Homo sapiens: one gene and its partner. The protein of the gene in region 1 purifies or fractionates together with the protein of each later gene. This does not show direct contact. Each region holds a gene or a part of one and is shown in the gene's direction. Other genes may lie near its edges.

Evidence for each region. The genes of interacting proteins can lie anywhere in the genome.
Region 2: the proteins of CDKAL1 (region 1) and DNM1 purify together in Homo sapiens (affinity purification with mass spectrometry; one large-scale study listed by BioGRID and IntAct). This does not show direct contact.

Annotation. Positions count from the first base shown.
Region 1 is NC_000006.12:20,537,276-20,541,121, forward strand, and holds part of CDKAL1 (threonylcarbamoyladenosine tRNA methylthiotransferase), read left to right. Parts: intron 1-3,846. UniProt on the Homo sapiens protein: Catalyzes the methylthiolation of N6-threonylcarbamoyladenosine (t(6)A), leading to the formation of 2-methylthio-N6-threonylcarbamoyladenosine (ms(2)t(6)A) at position 37 in tRNAs that read codons beginning with adenine.
Region 2 is NC_000009.12:128,223,879-128,227,378, forward strand, and holds part of DNM1 (dynamin-1), read left to right. Parts: intron 1-372; coding exon 373-511; intron 512-2,156; coding exon of another isoform or gene 2,157-2,295; intron 2,296-3,500. UniProt on the Homo sapiens protein: Catalyzes the hydrolysis of GTP and utilizes this energy to mediate vesicle scission and participates in many forms of endocytosis, such as clathrin-mediated endocytosis or synaptic vesicle endocytosis as well as rapid endocytosis (RE).

The DNA of each region.
Region 1 (3,846 bases):
ATTCTAATTCAGAATGGAACCTGGAGATTTGATATGATGAAAAGCTTCCCGCTGGGTGCAGTGGCTCACGCCTGTAATCCCAGCACTTTGGGAGGCCAAGGCAGGTGGATCACCTGAGGTTGGGAGTTCAAGACCAGCCTGACCAACATGGTGAAACCCCGTCTCTACTAAAAATACAAAATTAGCTGGGCGTGGTGGCAGGTGCCTGTAATCCCAGCTACTCGGGAGGCTGAGGCAGGAGAATTGCTTGAACCCAGGAGGCACAGGTTGCAGTGAGCCGAGATCGTGCCATTGCACTCCAGCCTGGGCAGCAAGAGTGAAACTCTGTCTCATAATTACAAAAAAAAAAAAAAAAAGCCTCCCTAATAACTCACCTATGTAAGTAACCACTGCTCTAGGATATTGCATCCTCCTTCTTCCTATCATTTTGAGTATTTTCCTTTTCACTGACTCTATTTTTATTCCCTTTATCAAATTTGATTTCCTCTACCTTTGAGAAAAATTTTTAATGATCCTTTTGCTCCATTTAGCTATTACGCTGCTTTCCTTTTATTCTCAAACTTTCATTTCCATATGATTTAATTAAAAATTTCTGAAGGCTAAACAATTCCCTCTATCAGTCTATCAGTTTGTTCAAAGTAAAACCTTTAGCTTATTAATAGTGATGAGTGAGATTATTTAGGTACTTATGATATACAGCCAGGTTTATGCTACATAATGCTGATATGCAGCGTTATATTTATCTTTTTTGAGTGAATATCTCCAAATGAAATTGCTGGCTCGAAGGATATACATATGTTTGGTATAATTGTCAGGTTGCCCTCCAGAAGGGGTGTACCAGTTTTTCTGTGCTTTCAGCTAACAGAGTTTTTGTCAGCTTTGTATCAGTGAGGCAGCTGAAAAATAACTTATTGTTTCAATACTTGTTGTTAGTGTGGTTGAGCATTCTTTCCTCTTTTTTTTTTTTTCTTTTCTGGGTATTTGTATTTCTTAAGTGAACTGCCTGTTTTTCCTTTACGCATTGTTTTCTGGAATGTGGTTACTTATTAGTGTCACATTAGATTCTTGCATTGTTTGTACTTTGCCAGTGAGGCAAAGCCATAGTGGGAAGAGCATGGTATTGAGAGGATGCCAAGGTTCTGATTTCTAGCTCTATCAATGTACAAATCCTTTTGCTTCAGTGGACTCCAGCTCTGTAAGATAAGAAGCTTAGCAACTTCTGCTTCTCTAACTCTAATGATATGGGATGTCTATTGCAGTGGATTCCTTTCATTCCTCTTTTTCCTTTCTATTTCTCTTCAGTGGATCCATACACACTTGTATATGGGATGGCAAAATTGTGTAATTAAAAAATATGGCTTTTAATTAATGTTATTTAATTATTCATGATCTGTCAGTAGTTCTTCCGCATTCCAAAGGCACTACCTGGTCCTAGCCTCTCTCATTTAATTATTTCATAGAAGAGTGGTGATAGAAGAAATCCTAGGGGTTGGGCATTTACTTCAGCTTCCCACCCAGTGTAGAATTTCCTGCTGTGTCATAGAAAGACTAGCTAAATTCAACTTAAGCATTGTGTTCATTCATTTAGTCAGTAACTATTGTGTGCCTGCTATGTGTCAGGCATTGTTAGAGGTGTTGTAGAGACAGTACTGAAAAAGAGATGATGCCTTTGTGCTTAACAAGCTTACATTGTAATGAGGAAGATACAATTATATATGTGGTGTCAGGTAGGTAAGCACAATGAAGAAACATGAAACAAAAGCAGGGTTAGAAGCAGTGAAAGTGTGGGCATGCTTGGGCAGCGTGGTTATTTTAGATAAGGTAGTAGGAAAGGCCTCTCCGAGGAGATGTTGTTTGAGTGAAGAAGTGGGTGGGAAGACATACTTATCTGGGGGCTGATATTCTGGCAGAGGAATAGCAATTATGAAGGCTCCCGAGTCAGAAACTAATTTGGCATACTCAGAATATCTATATCCATATATTGCCCGACTGTGTAGTCTGCAGTAAAAGTATTTATTGAGAACCTGCAATGTGCTAGACATAGTTCTAGGCACCTGGGATAAAACAGTGAACACCTCACACGAAAACCTTTACCCTCACGAAGTATGTATTCTAGTAAGATAAACAGTTAAAAAATTATTAAAACATTTTAAGCAGATGATTAAATGCTACAGTTTAAAAAAAGGCAGGAAAGGGGCATAGGAAGAGGGTGTGTGGTGAGGTGGGGGTGTTGGTTGGAAAGTCCTCTCTTGTTACACTTGAGCAAAGTCCTTAAGGGCTTGAGTGAGTGAGCCATTCAGGTGTCTTAAGTAAGAGCATTCCAGGCAAGAATAAGACTGTGAAATGAATGCATATCTAGTGGGTACGAAATAACAAAGCCTGCATGACTGAGGGGAGCGTGGTAGGAAGTGGGGCCAGAGATGCAGCAGGAGGCTGATTATATATGTCATTGCAGATCTTTGTAGTGATTTTGGCTTTTTACTCTGATATGGAATACCACTGGAAGGGTTTGATTGAGAAGCTTGAGATGAACTTAGGTTTTAAAGGGATCCCTGACTTCTGTGCTGAAAATGTTCTTGTAGAGTTTAAGGATAGAAGCAAGGATATTAGGGATTGCAATAATCCAGACAAGAGGTGATGTTGGTTTGGACCAAGAGTGTAACAGTGGGTATGGTCACAAATAGATTCTGAATATATTTTGAAGGTACAGCCAACAGGATGTTGTTGATTGATTGGATTTAGGGTGACAGAAAGAGGGGAGTGCAGGATTTTTGGCCTGAGCAGTAGAAGATTGGGATTGTCTTTTTTTTTTTTTTGAGACAGAGTCTCACTCTGTTGGCCGGGCTGGAGTGCAGTGGTGAGATCTTGGCTCACTGCAACCTCTGCCTCCTGGGCTCAGGCAATTCTCCTGCCTCAGCCTCCCAAGTAGCTGGGGTTACAGGCGCTCGCCACTATGCCTGGCTAATTTTTTGTATTTTTAGTAGAGATGGGGTTTCACCATGTTGGACAGGCTGGTCTTGAACTCCTGACCTTGTGATTCACCCACCTCGGCCTCCCAAAGTGCTGGGATTACAAACATGAGCCACTGCGCCCAGCCAGGATTGCCATTAAATGAAATGGGAGAAGTTGTAAGAGGATCTGGTAAGGTAGGGAGAAGATCAGGAATTCTGTTTCGACTTTGACTTTTTTTTTTTTTGGGATGGTGCTTCGCCCTTTGTCGCCCAGGCTGGAGTGCAGTGGTGCAATCTCAGCTCACTGCAACCTCTGCCTCCTGGGTTCAAGCGGTTCTTCTGTTTCAGTCTCCCGAGTAGGTGGGATTGCAGGTGCCCACCACCATGCCTGGCTAATTTTTGTATTTTTAGTAGAGACGAGGTGTCACCATGTTGGCCAGGCTGACCTCCAACTCCTGACCTCAGGTGATCCATCCGCCTCAGCCTCCCAAAGTGTTGGGATTACAGGCGTGAGCCACCATGCCCAGCCCTGTTTTAACTTTTTAAGTTTGAAGGAATTATTAGACATTCAAGCAGTGGTGTGGAATAGGCAGTTGAACGTCTGAGTCTGAAGCTCGGGGGAAGAATGGGGCTGGTTATGTAAGCATAGACGTAGTTCATATTTCAAGGCCATGGGACTGGATGAGGTCACCTAGGGAGTGCCTGAAACTAGAGAAGAGTTCCTGTAACAGAGCCATGGGGGCATTCTAATGGTGAGAAGTTGGAGAGATGAGCAGAGGAGACTGGAGCTAGGAGAGTGTGGCATCCTGGAAACTAGTGCAATTTCTTACTGCAGTTCTTCAGTCTTTAATAATGCACACTGTGAATGGGTAAGGACGCAGAATTTTCTAAATTT
Region 2 (3,500 bases), on another chromosome or scaffold:
TCTACTAAAAATACGAAAAAATTAGCCGGGCGTGGTGGCAGGCGCCTGTAGTCCCAGCTACTTGGGAGGCTGAGGCAGGAGAATGGCGTGAACCCGGGAGGCGGAGGTTGCAGTGAGCCAAGATTGCGCCACTGCACTCCAGCCTGGGCGACAGAGCAAGACTCCGTCTCAAAAAAAATAACAACAACAACAAAAAACCCTTCATTAGAACCCCTCCCTCCCATTTTACAACTGGGGACACTGAGGCCCAGAGAGGGGTAGTGGAAGGGCCCCTCAGGCAGAGTTCGTGGGCTTGGGGAGGAGCCTCGGCCTGGCCCTCCTGGCCGGCACTGGCCTGTGACACTCTGCCCTTCTCCCGCTCCGGGCGTTCAGAACGGGGCTGTTTACCCCAGACATGGCCTTTGAGACCATTGTGAAAAAGCAGGTGAAGAAGATCCGAGAACCGTGTCTCAAGTGTGTGGACATGGTTATCTCGGAGCTAATCAGCACCGTTAGACAGTGCACCAAGAAGGTAACCCGGAGGCCCGGGCCAGCCCCCACCGCCTCTGCCCCGCCCTGCACTGCTGCCAGGCGCTCCTTCCCCATGTCCCCCCCTGCCTCCTCGGTAGCATGTACAGACCTCAGCGGGGTGGGGAGGCAGGCCACCACTGAATAGGAGACAATGTGCCTCTGAGAGGGCCTCACCCACCCCTGGCCCCCAGGTCTGGGGACCCAGGGATTGGACATGGGTGAGACGGGGATGATGGCTGGCTGTTTACCCCAAGAGCCCACCAAGAGCTCCCCCAGCTCAGAGAATAGGGCTTGAGGGGACCCTGAGCCCCCTCCCTGTCCTCGGAGGTGTCATCTTTGGGAGCTCCAGGGAGGGGTCTGGGGAAACCTTAGCCTTGGAGACAGGTGAAATGCAGGGCCTTCTCGGGCACTGCTCGGTGGGCCTGGGTGGCCAGAGGGGGTGCAGAGGACCCAGGACTAGCAGGTGCCCTGGCTCCCCGCTGTCCTTCATCCTCCCCATACTCATCTCACCCTCACTCAGGACCCTCACACAGGATGCTCACGTAAGACCCTCACTCAGGGCCTCTCCCTCCCTTCCATCCACATCTGGCTTTCCAGGGATAGAGCCCTTCTCCCATCTGCCCCACCATCCAAGCCTCACAGAAGCACGCAGGGAGGCAGGACAGGGAGGACGGTGCCCATTTCACAGCACGAACACTGAAGCTCCAGGAGATCAAGTGGCTTGCCCAAGTCACAGTAGTCAGGAGGTGGCAGAGCTGTTACTTGAAGCCACGGCTCTGGACTCCAAGTCCAGTGCTCCTCGATTCCACCCTCCAGCCTCCCTTCCTTTCCTCTCCCCACTGCTGTCCCGGCCCCTCTCTATCACTACCTCTACTCTTTCTGTCTTTCCTCTTCTCTTTCTGTCTTTTGGTTCCACCAAACCCCTGTGGAGGAGAGGCCAGGAATGCCCCTTGAAGAGAAAGGGAGGGGCGGGACTAGAGCAGGGAGCTGGAGAGGGAGGTCAGGCTGCTATACTGCAACCCTAGGAGGCAGCCTCTGCGCCACGGTTTACGGGAATGGACCCCCCTGGAGTTGTGCAGTGCATGGCCTGGGCAGCTGGATGCGGCAACCCTAGAGATAGGGAATGGTACTGAGGTTTGGAGTCAGGATGAAGCAAATTCTGGGACACTGGGAAACGTAGAATTGAACAGGATGGGTGGATGAGGTCCTGGCCTTGTCCTGGCCTGGGTCAGCTCCTTAGGAGAACCCAAGGCTGTGGACAAAGACGGCACTGGGAGAGAGCAGGCAGCCTCAGTGAGGCCGAGGAGCAGGGGAGCATCCCTGGGAAGAGGATCTGAACTCAATAGGGGTCTTGTACGGAGCAGGGGCTTGGTCCCTCGTACCTCTGGCCATACCTATGGAGCCCAGGGGATGCTTGGCAGCACCTGGGAGGTGCCAACCCCGGGTGGCAAGGGAGGGCCGGTCCCACGCTCACATTGTCTTCTGTTCTCTCTCTCTCTTTATCTGTGTCGATGTCTCTCTCTCTTCCCCCGTGCCCGTGCCATCCTCTCCACCCCTGGATTCCTGTCTCTGCTTGGCTTTCACCCACTTCTCCTCCCCACCCACGGCTGCTCCTCCTCCTGTCCCCACCTCCTCCCCGGGTGCAGGACGGGCCTCTTCACACCTGACCTCGCTTTTGAAGCCACAGTGAAAAAGCAGGTGCAGAAGCTCAAAGAGCCCAGTATCAAGTGTGTGGATATGGTAGTCAGTGAGCTCACAGCCACCATCAGAAAGTGTAGCGAAAAGGTATGACGGCCGCCTGGGCGGGGCTGGGCCTGGCCGTCCATTCCTTGTGGCCACAGCCTCCCGTGGGCAGAAGGATCTGCTGAGCCGGCCTCACGGCTACCCGCAGGGACCCAGCCCTAGTGTTTCCTGCCAGTTTCTAACCCTGGGTACTTGCACTCATGACCCCTCCAGGCCCCCATCCCAGAAGACTTGACTCCAACCCAAGCCTCCTTGGTGGCACCTATGCTAGTGATGAAGATGATGTTAAGGAGATGGCAGCTGTTTACTGAGCACCTACTATGTGCCAAGCACACGCTAAGTGCTTGCCCTTACTATCTGACTCAGTCCTCTCAACCACCCTAAGACGTGGGTAGTGTTGTTATTCCCATTTTGCAGATGGCAAAACAGAGTCTCAGAAAAGAGAAGCAGAGTGTGATTCAGTTTTAGGAAGGACAGAGGAAGGGGTCTGAGGTCAGGGCCTCCTGGGCAGGGGGAGCTGTCCTAGTTCCTCAAAACCAATTTGCCTGAAAGCATATTGGATTACTCACTTTACAGTAATCCGTGCGTGAGAGACAGGGGCGGTCTCTTTTGAGTTGTCTGTGACTTTTTAGATGCCTTTTTCCTATTTGTCTGCTTTTGGGCATTTTGAGGATTTTTAGCCAGGTTGTCTAAAGCAGTTCTTCCCAGGGGAGTGCGAGAGAATCAGTTGCCTGCAGGAGCTTCTCCAGCAGGCTAAATCAGAGGTGCCAGGGGTGAGCCCAGCCTCACCTATATCTGAAGGACTTCCCTATGCTGGTGGGTGGAGGCACATCCACCTTAGCATTGAGTTTCAAATAAGCATCAATCATCTCCATTCCTTTTTTTTTTTTTTTTTTTTTTTGAGATGGAATCTTGCTCTGTCGCCCAGGCTGGAGTGCAGTGGCACCATCTTGGCTCACTGCAACCTCTGCCTCCTGGGTTCAAGTATTCTCCTGCCTCAGCCTCCCGGGTGGCTGGGATTACTAGCATGTACCACCACACCTGGCTAATTTTTGTATTTTTAGTAGAGATGGGGTTTTGCCACGTTGGCCAGGCTGGTCTTGAACCCCTGACCGGAGGTGATCCACCTGCCTCGGCCTCCCAAAGTGCTAGGATTACAAACATGAGCCACCGCGCATTCTTTTTTACTGAGCAGTGTGTTGTGTAATCCTTGTATGTTGCTACATAAAGATTGGTCTCATGCCTTT